Regions from separate parts of the Homo sapiens genome. Here region 2 is linked to region 1. The links come from fine-mapping of genetic effects on gene expression. A gene starts in region 1. The other region holds a variant in brackets. All regions are shown on one strand. Distances are from middle to middle.

Region 1 (12,297 bases):
GAGTCAACAGCCCCAGCTGAGCTCCTGGTCAGTAACCAGCATTAGTCAACCAGCCATGTGAAAAAACCATCATGGACATTCCACCCCAACTGAGCTCAACCACAGCCATCACCTCCTCGGGACATTGAGATTTCTGCACTTCCACTTTTAGGTTGTGCCAGAGAATGACCCAGGGAACCACTCTCACCACACAGCAGTGCACATAGGTGAATCGGGGTTGAGGCGCCCACTGGCCCAGCTCCGGGAGCATTGCGTGGGCTCGGACTGCTGAGATAGTGGCGCCTCTGGGCTGATGTGCGTTTTTCTAGGTGAGGAGCTCAAAGGGCCTAAGCGAGTGTGGCAGTGAAATCAGCGGTGGCAGAGGCAGAAAGGCTGCCGTGTCACTAGACAGAATTTCTGTGCTGGCTGGGCTCGCCAGGAAACATGCATAGAGAGTTACGGTTGGGGAAGTTTATCAGGAACAGCCCCTGTGAAAGAAAGGCAGAATTGGGCAGGGAGAGCTGTCAAATGGCGATGCTCTGAGCAGACTGTCCAGAAAGGAATCCTGCCTTGAGGGGAAATGGTGAGGCCTCATTCCACCTCTTTGCTCAGTCATTGCCTGAGAGCTGCCCAGAGGCCACGGAGACCTCAGCCAGACAGATGAAGGGGTGTGCTGGAGCCAGCTTGCTCTGGCTCGCAATAGCTGATTGTGAAATTTTCAGGAATTTTATGAGCCAGTTGTTAAAGACAGTCATTATTACAAATTAAATTATGTAAAATTACAATTGAATAAAATATATTAAAAACAAATCTAATACAGATGGCAAATAAGCACATGGATAGATATTCAAGATCATTAACCATTAGGGAAATACAAACGAAAGCTATGTTTAGATATCTCTAAACACTGATGGCTAAAGTTTTTTAAAACATTGATAATAACAAGTGCTGAAAAGGATGAGGGGCAACCAGATCTCTTGTACATTGCTGATGGCAGTGTAAAATGGTACAGCCATGGCTGGGCATGGTGGCTCACGCCTGTAATCCCAGCACTTTGGGAGGCTGAGGCGAGTGGATCACCTGAGGTCGGGAGTTCAAGACCAGCCTGATCAACATGGAGAAACCCTATCTCTACTAAAAATACAAAATTAGCCTGGTGTGGTGGCGCATGCCGGTAATCCCAGCTACTCAGGAGGCTGAGGCAGGAGAATCTCTTGAACCCAGGAGGCGGATGTTGTGGTGAGCCGAAATTGTGCCATTGCACTCCAGTCTGGGCAACAAGAGTGAACTCTGTCTCAAAAAAAATAAATAAATAAATAAAAGGTACAGCCACACTGGAAAATTTGGTAGCTTCTTTTCCTTTCTTTTCTTTTCTTTTCTTTTCTTTCTTCTTTCTTTCTTTTCCTTTCTTTCCTTTCTTTCCTTTCTTTCTTTCTCCTTTCTCCTTTTCTTTTTTTTTTTTCTTGACAAGGTCTTGCTCTGTCGCCCAGGCTGGAGTGCAGTGGCACAATCTCAGCTCACTGCAACCTCTGCCTTCCGGACCCAAGTGATCCTCCCATGTTAGCCTCACCACCATGCCTAGCTAATTTTTGTTTTTGTTTTTTTGAGAAGGAGTTTCACTCTTGTAGCCCAGGCTGGAGTGCAGTGGCGTGATCTCGGCTCACTGCAACTTCTGTCTCCTGGGTTCAAGCGATTCTCCTGCCTCAGCCTCCCAAGTAGCTGGGATTACAAGAACCTGCCACCATGCCCAGCTAATTTTTGTATTTTTAGTAGAGATGGGATTTCACCATGTTGGCCAGGCTGGTCTCGAACTCCTGACCTCAGGTGATCTGCCCACCTTGGCCTCCCAAAGTGCTGGGATTATAGGCGTGAGCCACCATGCCCAGCCTGCCTGGCTAATTTTTGTATTTTTTGTAGAGACAGAGTTTCTCCATGTTGCCTAGGCTAGTCTCGAACTCCTGGGTTCAGGGGATCCTCCCACCTCAGCCTCCTAAAGTGCTGGGATTATGGGCATGAGCCACTGCGCCCAGATCGGTAGTTTTTTATAAAGTTGTACATACATTTATCATACGAGCTAGCAGTCTCACTCCTGTGTATTTATCCTAAAGAAACGAAAATTTATGCTCACACAAAAACCTGTACAGTGTTCTAGACATAAGAAAGTAAATGAGAAAGGTTAATATTGCATACTAAATTTAAAAGTGTGCCATGTCTGTACATTGTAAATAGTACAAAATATTGAGGGATATTCTAGTATTTGAAAACAGTTATCTGATTCACAAAGAAGTCACTCATGCTATTGAATAATGAAGTTCCCAATATACACCTTTGTTCTTTTACTTTCATTTTAATCCTTAATGTAAACAAAAATACCAATCAGTGTTCATGTCAGAATCATACCTGATATATGTTGAATAAGGAGTCTTTAAACAGAAATACAGGTAAAACAATGTTAGATATTAATGGGCTGATGAAAATGTAACCAGAGGCCCTCAGGAACCTTATTCTGTATTTCCTCTAAGAGCAATGGTTCAATATTCACGATTTCAGTGTTTGAAGCCACTTTATAGAACTTATAGAACTACAGAGAATACTGAGAACCCACTGTATATATGCACACATTTCTCCCTGCTAAGAGCTGTTTTTTTTTTTTTTTTTTTTGAGACGGAGCCTCGCTCTTGTTACCCAGGCTGGAGTGCAATGGCACGCTCTTGGCTCACCGCAACCTCCGCCTCCCAGGTTCAAGCAATTCTCCTGCCTCAGCCTCCCGAGTAGCTGGGATTACAAGCATGCACCACCACGCCCAGGTAATTTTGTATTTTTAGTAGAGATGGGGTTTCTCCATGTTGGTCAGGCTGGTCTTGAACTCCCGACCTCAGGTGATCCACCAGCCTCAGCCTCCCAAAGTGCTGGGATTACAGGTGTGAGCCACCGCGCCCAGAGAGCTGGTTGTTAAACATTACCAATACACCACTGACTGCAGGAGCTCACCACACTGGGGGCTGCCAGCAAACCACATGGCTGCAGCCTGGCAGTCCTGTCTTAAAGTGGGATCTGAGTGATACATCTCCATGTTGGCCCCAATTTCCAAGCCTACAGTTAGAGAGGTTTATATTTGGGTCACAAAGATGTAAGTTTGAATCCTACCTCCCCAATTTACTAGTTGTGTGTCCTCAGGCAAGTAACACTGTGCCTCAGATCCTCAATAAGAGAATAGCTATTTCGGTTTTGTTGTGAGTCCCAGTGAGATTGTGTCATGTATGTGAAATGCCAGTACATGGTAGATAGTGTGAAAGGAAAATATCTTGGGTCCCCAAAATCACTAAGGAAAACTCAAGCTGGAAACTGCTTAGGGCAAACCTGCCTCCCATTCTATTCAAAGTTATCCCTCTCCTCACTGAGATGGATGCATATCTGATTGCCTCCTTTGGAAAGGCTAATCAGAAACTCCAAAGAACGCATCTGTGACCTGGAAGCTCCCTCCCACTTCACTTAGAGTCTTCCTGCCTTTGCTTCAAGTTGTCCCACCTTTCAGACCGAACCAACGTACTTCTTACAATATTGATTGATGTCTCATGTCTCCCTAAAATGTATAAAACCAAGCTGTGCCCCGACCACCTTGGGCACATGTCATCAGGACTTCCTGAGGCTGTGTCACAGGCACGTCCTCAACCTTGGCAAAATAAACTTTCTAAATTAACTGAGAACTGTCTCAGATTTTCTGGGTTCACAAAAGTGACTAGTATTAATCCTCCTACACATGACCCCAAACTCCAGTAAAGGCACAGAGATGCCCCATTCTGTCTGCTGCTCAGTCCTTCGATTACGGAGGATCAGACTGCAGTAGCATTGTGCCCAGTCATTCTAAATCAGTTTTCAACACGAGTACTCACTCCGTCTGAAAGGCCCAGGCTGGGTCCTGCAGTGGAGATGCCCAAACCTGAGATTTTAGAGATCTGCTGCCTGAAAAAGTTTCCCTCTTTCCAGGACCATACAAGGGGCCCCCTTACAGTCTAACTCCTGATGCTTTCCTGTCATGACAGGAATAGTAAGCAATGTTCTTGCTGGTGTCTCGGTGTCTGGGGCTTCTGGTTTTGTGTGGGGTGGGGAGGTGGGGGGGGAGTGGGGGTGGGGATAGAGGATTTGCTTAGTCTGTTTTTCTCCCAGTTTCTCAATACCCTAACCTGGGCTTCAGAAGCCCAGGCTGTCCCAGTTCAGATCTTGCTTTCTCTGACTCAGCTTTACCCTCAAGACACAGTCTCATCTCTGAGTCATCAGACTGGTCTCCTGCTTTCGAGGACAGCAGTCTGGCACTCCCGCTCCATCTTCCCAGGAAAGGTGCTGTCTCCACACCCCAGTCCCAGCCCCATGCCTAACTTGGCTCACAATACCCAGAACCAAGAAACAAATTCTCCATGAGATCAGAGAATGCCCAGAGAAAAGGTTCCAGGACCAGGAGTTGTGGAATGTCTGGTTTCAGTTCCAGCTCCACCAATTTGCTTGTGTGACTTTGGGCCAGTTCTGGAGCCCACCTGAACTGGGCTTCCTCTTCCCTAAAATGGAAATATGATCCACACTGGGTCTATCCCACAGGGATGTTGGGAAGCCCAAATGAAAATAGTGTGAAGTGCCCCCAAACAGGAGAGCACAAACCCCTGGCCTGTAGGCTGGATCTGATCCATAAAGCCATTTCCTTTGGCTTGAACAGTGTTGACCTATGTAGAAAGTGTTTAGCATTATACAAATGAGCTCCTAACAAATTTGGGGCCTTCACTTAAATATCTGACTTATGGCTTTTTTTTTTTTTTTGAGACGGAGTCTTGCTCTGTCACTTAGGCTGGAGGGCAGTGGTGCGATCTCGGTGCACTGCAATCTCTGCCTCCTGGGTTCAAGTGATTCTCCTGCCTCAGCCTCCTGAGTAGCTGGGATTACAGGCACGCACCACCACACCTTGCTAATTTTGTATTTTTAGTACAGATGGTTTCACATGTTGGCCAGGCTTGTCTCAAACTCCTGACCTCAGCTGATCCACCCACCTTGGCCTCCCACAGTGCTGGGATTACTGGCGTGAGCCACCGTGTCCGGCTGATGGCTTCTTTTTCAAAATGGGAGGATCTGGCCACATGAATCCCTTTCCCTAGATGACAAAATAGACTGAGCTGAGTAGCAGCAGCCCCTTCCCTTGGGCAAGAACCTGGAGCTGCTATCAAGCTCACCACAGTCCCCACCACTCCCTACTATGTCCCAACACTGGGACCAAGTCTCTGCTGCCATTTATTATTGCTCTGGGATATTGATTTGCTCCAGTGGAGCTCTAGTGGAAGTGAAATCGTTCAAATAACCATATTTCTATAAAAACGTAAAATGAAAGTCCTAGAAAGTACTCCCCCATCTGGGTCACAATGTCAAAAACGAAACCCCTTTGCCTAAGTGTTAGCCCTTGCCAATGGGCCCATGAAGGATGCCCATTGTGGGGGTCAGAGCTGGCATCCGGAGTCTTACGGGGTCCACGGCCCTCTACTTGCCTATCTCTGTTGTCTTCATCTGTAAAGGAGGAGTAGCAGCAGCTCCTTTTTCCTAGGGTTAGGGTGCACAACGCCCACCAGGCACTTAGTGAACTGTTCATTCAAGGTTAGCGGTTGAAACGCAAACATTTTGAACTGATAAAAAACTCTGGTGGGCCGGGCGCCGTGGCTCATGCATGTAATCCCAGCACTTTGGGAGGCCGAGGTGGGCGGATCACCTGACGTTCGAGACCCGCCTGGCCAACATGGTGAAACCCCGTCTCTACTAAAAATACAAAAGTTAGCTGGGCGTGGTGGTGTGCGCCTGTAGTCCCAGCTACTCGGGAGGCTGAGGCAGGAGAATCGCTTGAACCAGGGAGGCGGAAGTTCCAGTGAGTCGGGATCGCGCCACTGCTCTCCAGCTTGGCCATAGAGCGAGATTCCGTCTCAAACAGCAACAACAACAACAAACCTTTGGTGGGAGGTCGGAGTGTGAAATGAAAGACTTAGGGTTCCTGAGTGGGACTACAGCAAGGATTGGGAAGAAAAAAAGGAGATGGAAAAAGACGATTTAGGAGAGGTAAAAGTTCTGTTACTAGGACCCCAGCCCTCACTGGCCCACATCCGCTGGCGAGGACCTAACTTACTGCACCCAGCTTCCCAGTGGCCAGACCTAGGTTCCAGTCCTGGCTGGGGCAAGTCATTACCTTGTCTGGTGCTGTTTCTGCACCTATCAAATGAGGATGGAAATGTCTAGATGAACCGAGATAAACGCATACGAAAGCACTTTGGGAATCTGAAAAGCGCTATGAACAGGTTAGGAGTTTTTGGTCTCTTTTCAAAAAGTTTTTCTTCTAAGCTCATGTTTATCAAGGGCTTTTGAGTTTATCGAGGCTAAGACCCTCCCCTCGGTTTCGCAATTCTGCCCCTTCCTACACACCAAAGTCCGCGCCGCGTCAGGAGTCTTTTTTTTCTCCCCTAGCGAAGGCGGGGACTCGGGCGCTGTTGGCAGCTGGCGACGCGGGGCGAAGCCGCGGCTGGCGGCGCCTGGCCAGTCCCGCATCCGCCGCGGTGGGTGTGCCCGCAGGGGTGCGCCGGGGCCAGGGCCGAGACCGTCGGCCAGAGGGCGCCTGGAGGGTGTGCGCGCCGCGGACGACCAGGGTGCGCCAGCCCCGGGGTGCGCGCCTGGGACGCGGACAGTGCACCCGGAGGTTGCGTGCGCTCCGAAGCCGGGGTGTGCGCCTAGCTGCCCCGGCCCCGTGCACCGCGGGCCGCCTCGCGCAGGACTTCCGCAGCTCGCCAAGGTAAGGGACTCTGCGACCCCAGTCCCCCGCAGTGCGTCTGCTGGGGTGTTCAACACCCGCCCTGCGCGACCCGAGTGTTGGCCCCGGCGCTCGACCACTCTCCTCTTGCCTCTGCCACCCGCCTCGCCCAGTCCCCAGCGCCGCGTCCCCGGCTCCCTTTAAAGCAGTGGCTGCGGCAGCTTGGGCCGACCTGGCGCCCCCGCCTCCCAGCCTGGGGTCTGCGACAGAAAAGGAGCGGGGCTGCTCGGGCTGCCCAAAGGTGGGCGCCGCTCCCTTTCCAGCCCAGATTGGCTCTCCGCGCCCCAATTCTGGGGGTGGAGAACACTGGTGAGGAGGGGGAGGCCGTGCTGTCCTTGCGACTCAGGTGGTGCAGCCCCCGCCCAGCTTTTCCGAGCTAGGCGCTGCGGTCTGGGATGCAGCCTGCGGGACTGGGCGTTCTTTGCCGCGGGCTCCCACTGCTACCTGGAATCGAGCTCTTAGTCTCTCTCCTGTCGCAAAAGTCTCCCCGTAGTGCCAACCCTGGCACTCCTCGGCCCCTGGCTGAACTTTCCAGGGCTCCCTTTGGGCCGCGACCTTGGGCGGAGGCAATGGGGCAGCTCCGAGTGCTCTAGACGCCGCCGAGGGCGCTTTGCCCAGCCCGCATGCCTCCTGTGGGCTCCTTTCCCTTCTGCCTCTCCGGTAAGGTCAAATCTGTGACTGGGTACTTTGACCCCGCAGACTGGCCAGAAATGGGAGTTGGAAAGTCGAGCCCATGGCCGCTACGCTGGGTCTGAACCTAACTCTTGCCCTGGGCATCCTTCGGGGCTGCCAAACTCAAGTCTTAGTTCCTAAGCGCCCTGGAGTGCAAGCCTTTAGGGCAAAGAGGGAGTATTTTCCAGGAGAGGGAGGAGGACCCCCTGAGGCCTGGGCAAAGTCCTATCTACCAAATAGGGCCAGAGGAGGATCAGATGCAGCCAGTGACCCGGCTGAGGCATGGGGAGAAAGCATCTTGAGTTAAACACGATTCCCAAGGACCTGCTTGGGTAAATCAAGCCCAGGTTGCTTAGAGCCTCTCAAAATGTGACACAGGAAAGCTACACTGGGAATGGAGGCAGAGTCCGTTCTAATACTGCCTTTTCAAGCCCAGCCTTCCCACTTCACTGGACCATAATGTGACCTGGGGAAAGTGAGTTTTGGGGAATGGCTCGGGGATCAGACCAGACTGATTCAATCAACAAATGCTCTGTGCCAGGCACTGGTCAACGTAGTGAGGTACAGAAGTGAACAAAACTGGCACCTTCTGGCCTCATGGAGCTTGCATTCCAGTGGCCAACACCAACAGGAATTAAATCACTCACATAAATAGAGAATTCTCCAGTGCTGAGTTCTTTGAAAGGACTAGATACCCTGAAAACCTGATAGGTCCAGTAGTCGGTCAGTCTGCAGAATGACAGGAGAGAGTGGAATGAGCCTTCTAGGCAGAAGTAGCCGCGTGTGAGAGGGCCTAAGGTGAGTAGCAGAGTGGGTTAGAGGAACTGAAAGCCTCTGTTGGCTGAGTTACTACCAGGGGCCCAAATGGGCAGTCCTTTAGTTGTGCATCCCATTGACTGGTCCAGTCAGTGCCTTCCTTTCTGAACTGTAATAATGAGCAGTTGGAAGTCCCCTGGCTAGATCATAGTGTGGGGAGAAGGAGAGAGATAGACCAATAGCACCTTGCTGGACTCACTGCCCCATGTGTGCACCTTGGTCAGACAGCCCATGCCTGCTCGTGGTGCCAAGAGCAGCGAGCGGTTCATTCCCTAATGTCCATTCAGCTCACAGTGAACCAAAGCCTCTGCCCAACATTTAGGGAGATTTGTGCTAGGAGTGGTGGCTCATCCTAGACTTTTAAAACTAGAAAGAACTTGCTGACAGTGTAAAATTCCTTAGGGTGGCATACATGGCATTTCCTCATCTGGGCCCTACCTGCCTTCCCAGCCTCACTTCTGGCTCTAACACTTTCCCGGCCCCTTGCAATGAGCACCTTCAATATGTTCAGCACAATTATGCTTCAAGTGGTTCCTGGGCCACGCGTTGCCTTTGCACATACTACTACCCTTGGTCTGAAATATTATTCTTGCCCACCCAGTGAATGCACTCTTAGCTTTGAACTTCGGCATTAAACATAAGGTTTTTTCCCCTGCAGAAGGCCCTTCCTGACAAGATAGAGGCAAATGCTGCTTTCTCTTTGTTCCTAAAGCTCCCTGGACATGCTTCTGTCACAGCAAACATCAGCTACACTGAGCACCTTAAAAACAGGGCTCTCCAAGTACCTAGCACAGAGCAGGGCACATAGAAGGTGTTCAAAAAATGCTTGTTGGATGGAAACTGTCCTGTCCAGTATTTCTTAACTTTTTTATATGGGGAGGGGATGGTGGTTATTGCATATATCTTTGAGATTCTGATGAAAATTATGGATACTCTCCTCCAACTGCATAAAACCTAAAATATCTTGCATACAATATTACATGATTCACACCTCCCTGCTCCATTAACCCATTTCCAAAACTTTGGACTTCAATTTTACAGAAAATGGATGCTCAGTGAGGTGCGATGACTGCCTAAGTACCCACAGCTGGCTATGAGTAGGGATTCCTAAGCTCCTGACTTGCAGTTTAAAGCTCCTTCCAGCTCTGTCTGCTTCTCTTAGCCAAGCAGCCTCTTTTCGTTCCTGGTACTTTATGAAGGCCACTGCTCATGGCTGGAAGATGGATATCTTGGTTTTGCTTCAGTTCAGTAGCAGCCTAAGGTGTGACAGGGAGAAAAATATTATGGGCAGAGTTGACAATTAGGAAGACAGATGGGCCCTCTCCCTGGCCTGTTCACCGCCCTTTGCCTGCAATATTATTACATCTGTTTTAGCTGGAGGAGGGTCACTTGTGCTTCACAGTTACCTCCTGGGTCCTGGATTGGGCCATGTGGGCCAGACTGGGGGACGCCCTTGGTGGACCATTGAGATCAGAGGCCCAGCTATTGACCTTGTCAAAGGTTTCTTCCTGCAGAACAGGCTAAGGAGAGAACGGGGTTCTTGCTTGCTGCTACCAGAGCTCTTGCCTGCCTGGCCCCTTTCTTAGCAGATTGGGATTTTCATTGATTCAGGAATTCACCCATTCTTTGAAACTGCATTGAGCCTCTGCTCTGTGCCAGGACCCGTGCTGATTCCAGTTTACAAGACAGGGCCATGGAGTATGTGCTTGTGCACTCGTGGCTCTGCTCTGCAGGGGGAAGGGAAGAGGCAACTTTTACTCCTAGTTCAACCTGCACTTCGGTAGGTATGGTGGGGAGGATATTTAGGACTTCTTAGTGCTGAGAATATGCTTACTTTTATTTATTTATTTTTGAGACAGGATCTCACTGTTACCTAGGCTGGAGTGCAGTATCATGAACATGGCTCACTGCAGCCTCCACCTATATACTTACTTTTAAAACTCTGATGTTGTGCAAGTTATGTCATCTGTGGGCGGGGGGACTCAATTTTCCTATCTGTACAATGGGTTTGAGAACAATCCTTTCTTGCCAATTTCTGGATGATGGCGTGGATACAGTTATCACAGAGCCACTCGATTGTGTGTGAAACAGGAACAGTACAATATCATAATGTACATGTGTGTCGATCCCTGGCATAGTCAAGCCTCACCCTTATCCTAGAGTTAGTTACTGCCATAATCCCCAATGTGTAGGTAAGGAAATCGAGGCTCAGAGAGGTTAAGTGACTTGCCCAGGGTCATGGTCCATATTAAATGACCATAAAACTGGGATTTCACAGAGCCCTCTGTCTTTGGAGATCAGACGGCTAACCACTTTGTGCTACACTGTAGTAGAGTTTGTGGGAAGAGGCATGGGTTTGGAGGTCAGTGTATCCTGGGATTGGAGCCTAGATTCACCGCCAAGCAGCTGTGTGATTTACAGCTGGTCCATAACCTCTCTGTGCCTCAGGACGCCAATCTCCCAGACCAAGTTTGGACTAAGAGGCTTCTAATGGGCCTTTCTGTGAACAGCCTGCAGTCTACACAGATAATATTTCAAAGTAGGATTAAAGGAGAGAAAAGGGGCCCTCCGGCTAAAAACAGGGCTGTCACAGTTTCCAGGATAAAATAAATGCTGTCCAAGATTTAAAGTACGTAGATGGTGAATGTGATACATGGGCAGTTATAGATTGGTGGCGTCTGAAGAAGCTGGCCGAGCGTTCCTTCTCCAAGAGAAAGAAGTCCTGTTTTCAAAAGGATCACTTCACTGTCTCGCCCAGGCCCTGGGCTCTGCCCCCTCAAATAGCTTTCTGGAGACACAGGCATTGTGGGAGAAAACACAAATCCCAGTTCCATCACTCTCCTCATTTTTTCCCCAAAAGTAAATAAAACTTGTTGGTTGGATAGATTTTTTTTTTTTTTAATGTGGCTGTGGCTTTTCCCCCTTTGCATGGAAGGATCCTTTGTGTCTGCAGAGTTTCCTTTGGTATGTATTTCTAATTTGTGGCTCTGACGTCAAATGACAAGGGGGGAGAGAAATACAGCATAGGGAGAATTTGCTCCACACAAGGATAAAAGAGCAGCCTTCGGTGCCGATTCCCCTCCACATCCTGGTTTCTGCCCAGCAGCCCGGAGACGCCAGCTCTCGGTGCCATCGATTTGGATGTTCCTAGCAGGGCACCAGGCAGCAGGGCTGAGTGTTTTCAGGCGCTGCGCTCAGTTCATCGGTGTTTCCCACCCCGCTCTCCCTTCTGCCTTGGAAAATGTAGCCATCCTACTCCTGGGGAAAGGTTTAAAAGACAGAATGGAGGCTGGGCGCAGTGGCTCACACCTTAATGCCAGCACTTTGGGAGGCTGAGGCAGGCCAATCACCTGAGGTCAGGAGTTCGAGACCAGCCTGGCCAACATGGAGAAACCCCATCTCTACTAAAAATACAAAAATTAGCTGGGCATGGTAGCACATGCCTGTAATCCCAGCTACTCAGGAGGCTGAGGCAGGAGAATCGCTTGAACCCAGGAGGCAGAAGTTGCAGTGAGCCGAGATCGCGCCACTGTACTCCAGCCTGGGCGGCAAGAGCAAGACTTCATCTCAAAAACAAAACAAATCAAAACAAAACAAAACAAAAAGACGGAATGGCAAGTTCGGTAGTGGCTGAATATAATAGTGTGGTCAGGGTCTACAGTTATTAGGTACGACGTTGAGTATGAATGGGGAGGGCATTTTATCAATGTTTAAATTTAAAAAAAAATTTATTATTTTACTTTTAGCTTGGGGATACATGTGCAGAACGTGCAGGTTTGTTACGTAGGTATACATGTGCCATGGTGGTTTGCTGCACCTATCAACCCGTCATCTAGGTTTTAAGCCCCGCATGCATTAGGTATTTGTCCTAATGCTCTCCCTCCCCTTGCCCCTCACCCTCAGCAGGCCCCAGTATGTGATGTTCCCCTCCCCGTGTCCATGTGTTCTCATTGTTCAACTCTTACTTATGAATGAGAACATGCGGTGTAATGTTTGAATTTTTA
Region 2 (12,297 bases), 75 kb before region 1:
TCTTTTTTATTGCCCCTTAAGGAAGCTTTTTTGCCAATTTTTTAAAAAATTACCCTTCTCCCCATAAAGTTTTAATATCACAGATATACTGTATATCTGTGTATGTACCATGGCCCTTTGCAAGATCACAAACGATTGTAATGGTTTTGTCACCCCTACTGAGAATGCATTTTCTAGGACAATTGACTAATAAATTAGGAAAAAAGGAAAAAAATAATTCAGCATGTTATTTTATGATTATTATTATTATTATTTTAATTTTTGAGATGGAGTCTCACTCTGTCACCCAGGCTGGAGTGCAGTCGCGTGATCTCGGCTCACTGCAAGCTCCGCCTCCCAGGTTCACGCCATTCTCCTGCCTCAGCCTCCCGAGTAGCTGGGACTACAGGTGCCCACCACCACGTCCGGCTCATTTTTTGTATTTTTAGTAGAGACGGGATTTCATCCTGTTAGCCAGGATGGTCTCGATCTCCTGACCTCGTGATCCACCCGTTTGGCCTCCCAAAGTGCTGGGATTACAGGCGTGAGCCACTGTGCCCGGCCTATTTTATTATTTTTTTGGAGACAGAGTCTCGCTCTGTTGCCCAGGCTGGAATGCAGTGGCACGATCTTGGCTCACTGCAACCTCCATGTCCTAGGTTCAAGTGATTTTCGTGCCTCAGCCTGAGTAGCTGGAACCAGATGTGCACCACCATGACTGGATAATTTTTGTATTTTTAGTAGAGATGGGGTATCACCACGTTGGCCAGGCTGGTCTTGAATTTCTGGCCTCAAGTGATCCGCCTGCCTTTGCCTCCCAAAGTGCTTTGATTACAGGCATGAGCCACCGCACCCAGCCCCATCTTGTCACCATTTTAAATAACCTTCATTTATTTATCTGATCTTAGGGACTCAGGTGATAATGTGGCTCCCCTTCCTGGGTGAAAGCCTCACTATCCTTGCCCACTTTGGGTCCACTTTGGGTGATGAACCAGGTATGTGCTTGAGCCCCCTTGTACAGTGGGAGCCAGGTCTACCCTCAGGGCACAATTAACAGCTTCTTCTTTTCAAGTCTGTGTTCACTTAAAAAGTTTGAGACCCTGCCAGCCATCTTCGGCCAAGTCTACTTGACCCATTGTCAGTTAAAAAATGTGAGAGTTGGTCCAGGATGAGGCTAAATACAATGTGATTGAGAATGTTCCCTGCATGAATAGAGGCCATAAAGTCTCTTCAGGAAAAAATCAGAACTGGCACATACTCCAAGGCAATTTTCTCTAGGATACCTCTCAGCCCATGTAGCACTCTCAGTCCAGAAGCAAAGCTAATCCAGCATAAGAGGTATTGCTGTCAATCACCCTAAAGAGGAGCGGTCCAGAGAGGACCAGGATGATGGAGGGATTCAGGAGTAACCAAGAAAAAAAAAAAAAGAACACTTCAGATTGCCTCATGTGTTTAAACATCTTAGGAGATTTATACTTAGTTCCAGAGTTTGAAAATTAAATAGTGATGGTTACCTAAGAAATGGAACAAAACAAAGGCAATTATTGACAGAAAACAAAAAATTGTATCATATAAAAAATCACAACGCACTATATGGCTCATCTGGGAATAATATTTACATGGTTCTAATAATGTTAACATTGAGTATTGATCTTAGGCTGGCATGTGTTTTTATCCCCAGTATTTCCAGTTGCTGATGTCTTCCTCAAGAACACTCAAATACTAGGCGGGGCGCAGTGGCTCACGCCTGTAATCCCAGCACTTTGGGAGGCCGAGGTGGGTGGATCACCTGATGTCAGGAGTTCAAGACCAGCCTGACAAACATAGTGAAACCCCCTCTCTGCTAAAAATACAAAAATTAGCTGGGCGTGGTGGTGCACACCTGTAATCCCAGCTACTCAGGAGGCTGAGGCAGGAGAATCGCTTGAACCCAGGAGGTGGAGGTTGCAGTGAGCCAAGATCACACCACTGCACTCCAGCCTGGGCGACAGAGCAAGACTGTGTCTCAAAAAAAAAAAAAAAAAAAAAGAATACTCGAATACCATTTAGCACTTGCTGATGTTTCTCATCGAGAAATTATGTAGGCTGGCCATTCATTCTTCCCACCACCCTATGAGTCACCATGATCCTTTAACTAATGTCATAATTGGTGAAAAAAGTCTCGATTGGTGCTTTCTTTCTAAAAGGGAACTCATCCTTATATCAAAATGCATCCACTCCAGGATGGGGCGTCAGCCCATGAAGTGGGACGGCTATACTTCACACTGGGACACCCTGTGGTGTCCGTGATTGTGACTAAGTTCTGGATATGGACAACCCTGAAACATCCAGCTTTTGGAAGTGGGCTCTCCCACAGTAAAATGGACAGGAGTGGGGTGGGTGGGTGGGTGGCGTGATGTCTTCTCATCAGGATTATTTTTAACTGGGCCTTTAGGAACCTGAAAGAACCATATCAACGTTCTCTTACCACATGTGTTAGTTTCCTATGGCTGCTGTAACAGGTACTAACTTTGTGTCTTACAACACAGTTAATGATTTTATAGTTCCGAAGAAGTCTGAAATCTGTTCACCACCTTACAGTCAGGGAGGCAGCAGGGCTGTACTTGCCTGGAGGCTCTGAGGGGAGAAGTCATTTCTTTGTCTTCTCAGCTTCTAGAGGCTGTCCATTCCTTGGTGATGGCCCCTTTCATCTTCAAAGCCAACGCTGGCCTCCCTCTGACTCTGCTTCTGCTGTCAGTCCCTTCTGTGACTCTGACACTCCCACCCCTCTCGTATAAGGACCCTTGTGATGACACTGGGGGCACCCACTGGATAATCTCCCCATCTCAACATCCTTGGTTTAATCACATCTGCCAAGTCCCTTTTGCCATGTGGGATAACATTCTCCAGTTCAGTAGATTAAGACATGAACATCTTTGAGGGGCCATTTTTCTGCCTACCACACCAGGGGCTCCAGGTAGTGGGTCTGGTTGGGGGAGGTTGAAGGGGTTGGGATCAAATGGAGGGGCTATGACCACTACCTTCTCATTCTAAGTTAGAAAAATATTTAGGGTCCTTGGCCAAGGGTTTCCTTCATAGCCTGTCCTCCCAAATAGCTCCAAGCCAGGTGTCTGGATGTCATCCACACCCACCTGTGCCCTCACTTGACAAAGAGATTTGTTTAGACTTGCAATTTCACCATCTCCACAGATCTGCGGTTCTCAAAATAAATTTCTAGAGCTGCAACTCAGCCTGTTTAGCTAGCACGTCATGGAGAGTCCTGCAGTGTCTTGGGGGATAGAGATATTTAATTTGGCCCTGGCGTGTGACACCTTCTCCTTCTTACCTCCTTCCTCCTGGCCCCCAAGCTTGCATTTACTATGGCTTGTGGAGAGTTAAGAATCCCACTATCCTATCCTACTCGTGAATTGCTTGACATCAGGGCATCCTGTGCTACCAGAGCTAGATCCTTGGCAGTGCTGGGATAGCCTCAGGGTCCCCAGGGCCTGTGGCCCCACTTTGGGATGGGAAGGCAAAGAGCCCCGGGGAAGAGAGCCATGAAACCTTCCCTGCTCCCTTTCCAGGCAGAGGCCCGCCTCCCTCCTGACTTGGCTTCTTTTTCTGCATTCTCATTTGGCGTTTGACTAGTCACGTCTCTCTGTGGCAGATCAACGTGGGGACTCCCTGATGCTGGGAGAAATTTTACATTTTAAATCGCTGAGGCCCCAGGGTGATGGGAGAGCTCAGACTTCCTTCAGCTGGCACCTCTGCTACAGGAGGGATCCTGGTCCTGGGAGACAATTTTGTACCAGAGAGCACCTGGGTGGGGAGAAGGCAAAGAAGACTTGCCCTAGAGTGAAGTTTGAGGTGTTGGATACCATACTGTATTGTTTTGTTTCTGAATTAGGTTGTCTATTCCTGGCTTTAAGAGTGTAGAAAAACTCCCTGATTTTCGAGAGATTGTGAAAATTTTACCCACTGAATTGATTTAAAGAGACAGTAGAAAACAAAATAAAACTGCATTTTGATTACGTGCCATAAGTCAGGTATGCTTTGTTCAACACACCCAATACATTAATTTCCTATATGAGGGCTCAATATAAATAAATTTGCCTGCCTGCAGATTCACTAAGTGTTCTCTAACATATCATTTCTGTTAATGCTCTTTTATTTTTATTTATTTATTTATTTGGAGACGGAGTCTCACTCTGTCACCCAGGTTGGAGTGCAGTGGCGCGATCTCAGCTCACTGCAACCTCCACCTCCCAGGTTCAAGTGATTCTTCTGCCTCAGCCTCCCAAGTAGCTGAGATTGCAGGCGCCCATCACCATGCCTGGCTAATTTTTGTATTTTTAGTACAGACGGGGTTTCACCATGTTGGCCAGGCTGCTCTCGACCTCCTAACCTCAGATGATCCACCCGCCTCGGCCTCCCAAAGTGCTGGGATTACAGGCATGAGCCACTGTGCCCAGCCCCTTTTATTTTTTTATTACTATTTTATTTATTTATTTAAGACACAGTCTTGCTCTGCCGCCCAGGCTGGAGTGCAGTGGCACAATCTCAGCTCACTACAACTTCCGCCTCCCAAATTCAAGCAATTCTTGTGCCTCAGTCACCCAAGAAGCTGGGACTACAGGCATGAACCACCACGCCCAGCTAATTTTTATATTTTTAATAGAGATGAGGTTTTGCCATGTTGGCCAGGCTGGTCTCAAACTCCTGGCTTCAAGTGATCTGCCCACCTTGGCCTCCCAAAATACTGGGATTACAGGCATGAACCACTGCGCCTGGCCTTTTTTTTTACTATTAAAAAAAATTGTTTTAGAGACAAGGTCTTGCTGTTACTCAGGTTGGTCTTGAACTCCTGGCCTCAAGTGATCTTTCTGCCTCAGCCTCCCAAGTAGCTGGAATTACAGGCACTAGCCACTGCACCTGGCTTATTAACCCCTTTTAAAATTTCCCCATTGTATGCCTGTTGGGAAATGTACCGGAAACCTAATTCAAGTGTCCTCCCTTTCCAAATAGCACCCCCTCTTCCAGGCCACTTGATCACTTCAGTGGGGGACAAGGAGTAGACTGGAAGCTGGAAGGATTTCCTCCTCGCGAAACAATTGGCCAGTG[T/C]GGAAGGCCAGACCATCTGGGCCCAGCACAGAGGCTGCTTTCTTCCAAGAGGAATGCTGAGCACAGAAACACCCTGACCCTTGGCTGTTCCAATCCCTGTTAGGATCCTCTGTTCCGGGGCCCTGGAGTAGGACCTGCAGGTCAGTCCTGTTCTGTGACTGCTGACAGGACCCTGCGTCCTGATGGCTGCTTGGTCTCTTCAGACTGGGGCCTGGCATAATTTCCCTCTGCCCACCTCAGCCTGGATCACTGGCAAGGGAGCAGAGAGACTCTTGAGTAGGTCACTACTTGGACAACTGGCAGGACTGGGGTAGTCATCTCTTATTCAGTGGGCACTGCTGGGGGTCAGGCATTGTACTGGGTGCAGCACACCTCAGGTACTTTCACAGAACATTCTCAGCTGTCTCATGAGGTAGATGTTACCATCCCCATTTTGTAAGGAGACTAAAGTCCTGTCTCCATCAGGGAAGACAGGATGGCGTACTCAGAAGGTTTAATTGAAAAGAGTTTAAGGAATGGACTATTTACAAAGGTGTGGGCAGAATTAAGGGGGCTAACAAGCGATGACGGAGCCCCCAGGGGTTAGTAGCAGCTGGAAGCCATGATCACCCCCAGGCCTAAAGGGGAAGAGAAGGCAAGTCACCCCTACCAGACAAGAGCTGGGATCAGGGAGAGTGTGGGAGCACTGCAGAACCACCAGAGGGAAGGTGGCAGTGGGGAATGAACACCCTCCCGTCACCTCTGCTACCACTGCTTTCCAATGCCCAAACTCAGCTGAAAGCCAGAGGCCCAGGGCGCCTGGTGCCACAGCCCACAGAGCTCAGCCTCCCGAGAGGCCCAGGGACACTAGACGGCGCATGTCCTGAGAAATAATCTGACCAGAAGTCCTGTGCTGAGATTTAAACGCTAGTTTTCCTGAAGCCACTGCTGTCCTTCCTCCCATTGTCTACACTATCAAAAATAGCAGCTAGAAGTCAAAAAGAAAAAGAGATGGACAAGGAAATTAAAGTTCAGCTCATAGACCAGTGGCATCCAAAGTGTATTCTGAGGTACACTAGGCTCTTTTGTTGCCACATAGTTTGACAAAGGCTTTATTTCATATCTCCCAGTTGGAGCTCCGAAATGTGTTTTAGCATATTGAAGACTCTGAGATGTAATTAAGCCTAACTAATTTTCATTCTTTTCTTCAACTTAATTGACCATGAAAACTTTTTCCATTCATATAATATCATGGAGACTTTGTATTCTTTGAAACACGCTTGGGGAAGTACTGCTGTGAGCAATGGGGTTTGATGCAGGGAAAGGCTGAAGATAAATTTCGCTGCAGTGTAGCAGGTGGGTTTGAAGAGGGCAATGAGGGAGACAGGCAGATCAAGCAGAAGGCTCCTCCAGTAATCCAGGCAAGAGATGAGAAAGGCTGGAGCCTGGGAAGCAGCAAGAGGAGGGAGAAGAAGAGCCAATTCCTCCTTGGTAATGGGGCGAATGGTGAGTCATTATGCAATGGGCCGATCTGGAGGAGAATCAGACAGAGGCTGTGAGATATTCAGGCCAGTTTTTGACACATTGAGCATAAGGTGCTTTGGTATAAACAGATTTTTTAGTTGGAAATTGGGGGTGCAAGATTAGAGTTTTGGCAAATGGTTGCTGCTCAAGGTACACATTTGAAAGCCATCAACATATGGGTGATGATGGAAGCCCTGGGGGTGGTTGGCACCCCCCCAGCTGAGAAAGTAGAGCAGAGGGTCTAACTTGGCTTGAGGGTGTGAAGAAACTCCTGAAATTACTTAGGGTATTATGTGTCCATGAATATAGGCATTTTTACTTATTTATTTTAGGGATGACTCTCTCATAGCTTCTAGCATGTTTTCAAAGGTGTCCTTGAAAAAATAAGTTTAAGAACCAGTGGTGAAGAATGAGAAGAGAGGAAGATCAAGGGTAAAGTCTGCAAGAAGAGTAATCAAATAAGTCTGACACCTTTGAGCCAGAGGGGTTGGAGCAATGCAGGATGCAGGGGCCGCAGGATCCAGAGCAGAAGGAAGGATCAGCAATTTCCCGTGATCCGAGAGTCGAGTATGATTAGGTCTAGAGATAAGCCTTTGGATTTGGCAATTAGAAAGTCATTGCCTTGTCAAGAGCAGTGTCAATTTTGGGTGGAGGAGATTATAGAGGATGGAATAGTGAGTGGCTTGGGAAGAAGCTGTTGGTGTGAGAAGAGACCAAGTCCTTCAAGAGGCTTGTGGTCAGGCTGGGCACAGTGGCTCACACCTGTAATCCTGGTGCTCTGGAAGGCTGAGGTGGGAGGATCACTTGAGGCCAGGAGTTCACGACCAGCATAAGCAACACAGAGAGACCTCATCTCTACAAAAAAAATTTAAAAGTAGCTGGACAGCTGAGGTGGGAGGATCACTTTAGCCCTGGAGTTCGGGGCTACAGTAAGCTATGATCTTGCTCAATGTGTACCTTGAGCAGCAACCATTTTCTAAAACTCTAATCTTGCACCACCAATTTCCGACTAAAAAATCTCTGTTTATACCAAAGCACCTTATGCTCAATGTGTCAAAAACTGGCCTGAATATCTCACAGCCTCTGTCTGATTCTCCTCCAGATCAGCCCACTCCAGCCTGGGTGACAGAGTGAGATCCTGTCTATAAATAAAAAATTAAATAAGATGCTTGTGGTCAAAGCAGGACTAGGATTAGGTGTTTATACTGGTTTGAAATTGAGAGCAATAAAAGTTTGATATTCAGGACCCACCCCTGAAGACACTGTTTTTAAAGGGAAAATTATAACCTACATACTGAAAGACAAAATGTATCTAGGTGCATTTGGGCAGGTATAACAAACTAGCATAGACTGGGGGCTTATAAACAAAAGAAATTTATTTCTCATAGTTCTGGAGGCTGGAAAGTCTAAGATCAAGATGCCGGCAGATTTGGTGTCTGCTGAGACCTTGCTTCATGGTTCATAAATGGTCATCTTTTCACTGTGTCCTCAAATGGTGGAAGGGTAAGGGAGTTCTCTGGAGCCTTCTTTTAAAAATAAAAGGCACAATCCTATTCATGAGGATTCCACCCTCATGACTTAATCACCTCCCAAAGGCCCATCACCTCATACCAAAACCTTGGGAATTAGGTTTCAACGTATGAATTTTGGGGGGCCACAAACATCTAGTCTATAATACTGGGAAAATAAAATATATGATTCATGAAAGTTATCAACACACACACAAAAGCAGCAAGCAGATCTGGGGAGAAGAGGCTGAATAAGGATAAATGTTGAGGAGCAGAATTGATAGGACTTGCATTGAAATTGGATTTAAAAGAAGGAGAGGAGTTAGGGCTGACTTGTAGACTTTCGACTTGAGCCAGCTGGGTGAAGGGTGGTGTCTTTTACAGGGTTGAGAAAGACTGGGAGAAGAGCAGGTGAGGAGCGGAAAGCAAGATTTCTATTCCAGATGTCTTAAATCATGTGACACGTCAGAGTCCTATCAGATGCCCAAGTGGAGAGGTTAAGATAGAGATAGAGTCTGGAGCTGGGGGAGAGGATAAAGTTGGAGATAGAATTTGGGAGTCATTGTATGTGGATGGCATTTGAGCTATGGGCCTAGATGAGTTCACCTTGAAAATGAGTATAGGTAGAGGAGATGCCCAAAGACTGAGATTTAAGCACTCCTGCATTTAGAGGTTTAGAGGGAGGAGAAGGAAACTGCACTTGGCCAAATACAAGACAAAGTGATCTTCTACACTCAGGAAGAACACACTGGGAGAGGTTGCTTTCTGAGTACAGTACTCCTGAGTCTGTATTCATAACCACTGCCATAGCCACTAGGGTAGCAGTCATCTTAGCAGAATTATCTGTTCTGCATTTATTGTCAGCCCCAAGCAACTTACCCACGGTCAAAGATCATAGGAGCTTATTGAAACTTCAAAGCCCATGCTCATTCAGGGCAGGTGGTCCTGCTGCAGCCAGTGCTCAGCACAACTCCAGGGACGCTAGTCCCATAAACTATAATGCAAACAGCGCCCTCTGTAGGGCTCAGCATGCACAACCATATGTGCCCTTTCTTACTATGTCTTGCTGCCTTGGCATCTTTTCTGCAAAGTTCTGCTACTTTTAATGTAAATAAGTCCTTCCAAAGCCTCCTGATAAAAGGGGTTTATTACAGTGATTATAAACTTGAGCTTTAGAGTCAAAAAGAAATTTGTTCAAGTCACAGCTCAGCCTCTTACTAGCTGTAACCCCTTTCAGCTCCAGTTTTTCCATGTATGAAATGAAGAGAATTAAAGCAGTCACCTCAGAGGGATGGATGAGTATTAAAGGAAAGAAGCCATGAAGAAGGTTTAGCATGCTTTATTCAATTTTTTTTTTTTACTCAGTGTTAATTCATTTTTGTTTCTAACTCCACTTCCTGGGCCCAGACTTTGGCTCTCAGGAGAGATCGGAGGTTTTATGGAAAGGATGGGAATCAGATTTGGTTCAAATCTGCCAGCAAATTAATGAAAAGGGCACCATGGATCAGGAATCAGCGTGCAGAACAAAGATTTGCAGCTCAGCAAGCAAGGAAAATAATTTGGGTGGCTTTGTTTGGGACTGTTACTCTCCTGTTCGGGAAAATGCTGAAAGTTTATTGCAAAGTTGTTTCTTTTTTGAGTCATTTATCATAAAATTGTTTTTGTTTCTAAGCACGTAAGGAATTCCAGGACTGCGTAAAGAAGGAAACTTTGAAAAGCTGAGATCTAGGATATTGGCCATGTAATTTCATTGTGGGGCAGGGCATTAGGAACTAAAGGTAGGCTGGCTCAAGGGATTAAAATCTATTTACAACCTAGTTACCATACATGTATATCCTGTTTTCTCCCCATTGTGCTGGGCTGAGTATCTAACAAAAGATTCTCCCACATATCTGAAAATAAAATGAGCGCCTGGCTCCAGTGTCTATGAGAAATGGACATAGTATGCTTGTATTTTATTTCTATGAAAGGTGCATAATGTTTTCTAGGTTCTTCTGCTCTTTTTCATTCTTTAAAGAAATGGAAACAAAGAGGCCAATCCTGACAAGAAGGAGATGCTGGCCAAGAGCCCCAGATCTTCCTCCTGGTCTCAGAACAAAATGTGAAGACGGTCTGAGTTTTCAGTGAAGAAGGGGAAAAAATGTTTGAGTTCTGGAGTCTGACGTCATGGTCCTCTGTTGCTCCCTACCCTACCAAACAACGGTGCAATAACTTGATGTTGGAGAAAGTCACTTTTCAATGTGTATTGGGTTCCGTTATTTTTCAAGACTTCAGTAGATGTGCGCGACAGGGCAGAGTCACACCCACTTCTGCTCGCTCCAGACATACCTCATCCCACAGGAACGGGGACAAGGGGTGGCTTCCTTGGCCACCTTTCAAGAATGTGCAAGGTGAATCCTTTCAAGAGGAGGAACAATCAATCCTACTTACATTTATTTTTATTATAGAAAAATCTTACTGTATGCAAAAGTAGAGAGAATAGCACAATGAACCTCCATGAAACCCCCATCCAGCTTGACAGCAATCAACTCACAGCCCCTCTCATTTCCTCCATGCCCTCCATTCCCCCCCACCCCAGATTATTTTGAAGCAAATCTCAGGCACAATATCATTTTTCCATTAAAAGTCCTGGTGCAGTGGCTCATGCCAGTAACCTTAGCACTTTGGGAGGCTGAAGCAAGAAGATCCTTTGAGGCCAGGAGTTCCAGATCAGCTTGGGCGCATACTGAGACCCCATCTCTACAAAAAGTAAAGTAAATTAGCTGGGTGTGGTGGTGTGCGCCTGTAGTAGTCCCAGCCACTCCAGAGGTTGAGGCAGGGTGGATCGCTTGAGCTCAGAAAGTTGAGGCTGCAGTGAGTCATGATTGTGCCACTGCACTCCATCTTGAGTTACAGAGGGAGAACCTGTTTCTAAAAAACAAAAACAAAAACAAGCAAGCAAACAAAAAAAACTGGTGCGGTGGTTCACACCTGTAATGCCAGCACTTTGGGAGACTTTGGGAGGCCAAGGCGGGCAGATCGTTTGAACCCAGGAGTTTGAGACCAGCAACATAGCAAGACCCAGTCTCTACAAAAACTTAGCTGAGTGTAGTGGTTCATGCTGTAGTCCCAGCTACTCGGGAGGCTGAGGTGGGATGATCGCTTGAGCTTAGGAGGTTGAGGCTGCAGTGAGCCGAGATCACAGATTGCATTCCAGCCTGGGCAACAAAGCAAGACCCTGTCTGAAAACAAAACAAAACCAACGAACAAACCAACCAAACAATGAACAGTCCTTAATATTGTTATATATCCAGCCTGTATTTAGCTTTCCTGAATACAAGAAAGTCTCATAATTGTTTTACTATTTTTAGTTAGAATCAGGACCCAAATAAAATGCATGTATTGTACAGCTGATATGTTTAAGTCTGTTTTAATTTACAGGCTTCAACTATTTTCTTTTTTTGTTTCTTTCCTTGCAACCTATTCATTGGAGAAACTGGACCAATGTCATAGTGTTTTCCATATAGTCTGTCTTTTGCTGATTTCATCTTCCTCTGACCCCTGCATGTCCTATAAATTTTTAAATAGATCTAGAGGCTTGATCAGATTTCAATTTAAGCTTTTTTGGTGAGAATACTCCATAGATGCTGTGTACTTCCATCAGGAGGTACATACATAATGTTTGATTGTCTCCTTTCTTGTGTGATATTATTAATAGCAGCTATCAATGATTCCTACCCATATCCATTAGGAAATGCAAATTGATGATAGTCAAATTATATCATTCCTTTATAATTTATTTAGCAAAAATACTCTGTAAAAAAAGCTTTCTCTTTATTCACTATTTGGCTGAAATATAGATTGCACAGGAATGAGACTAAGTGCTTGATTGTTTTCCTTTATTTACCAATATTCAAAATAATAAGGTGTTTCCCTAGGATCCTCCGAATGTAACCAATGCATTTTTTTTTTTTTTTTTGGCCAATGAAACTTTAATTGCATTGAAATAAATTCATGGATTTTTAATACATTTGATGGTTTAAATACATTGCAGTGATTATTCTTATTGATGTTCAAATTATTCCATCTTTGGCTAGTGGGATGCTGTTTAAATTAGCTGCTGAGTCTTCCTGAAACAAACCTACTGGTCTTTGATAGTTTTCTTGCTTTCTAATATGACAAAGCAATCCAGGGTCATCTTGCAATTTTCTGCCCCAGATTTGGAATC

Alleles and levels. Positions count from the first base shown, and alleles are read on the strand shown. Sizes are in standard deviations (SD) of each study's normalised expression.
As copies of C replace T in region 2, the expression in tibial nerve of the gene that starts at base 6,459 in region 1 goes down (small effect, 0.31 SD a copy in GTEx).

Evidence for each region.
Region 2: its variant is fine-mapped to the expression of KANK4 in tibial nerve (GTEx, PIP above 0.99). The same link has a PIP of 0.9 or more in esophagus muscle, gastroesophageal junction and sigmoid colon.

Annotation. Positions count from the first base shown.
Region 1 is chr1:62,313,596-62,325,892 of GRCh38, reverse strand. It overlaps KANK4 (KN motif and ankyrin repeat domains 4), which reads left to right and starts at 6,459. Exons shown (of 10, transcript NM_181712.5): 1 at 6,459-6,787. RefSeq lists enhancers at 6,419-7,141, 7,142-7,866.
Region 2 is chr1:62,388,373-62,400,669 of GRCh38, reverse strand. No RefSeq gene overlaps it. Among named protein-coding and RNA genes, the nearest start is that of USP1, 43 kb to the left of the region's middle. The variant T/C (reference allele first, on the strand shown) is at 5,080.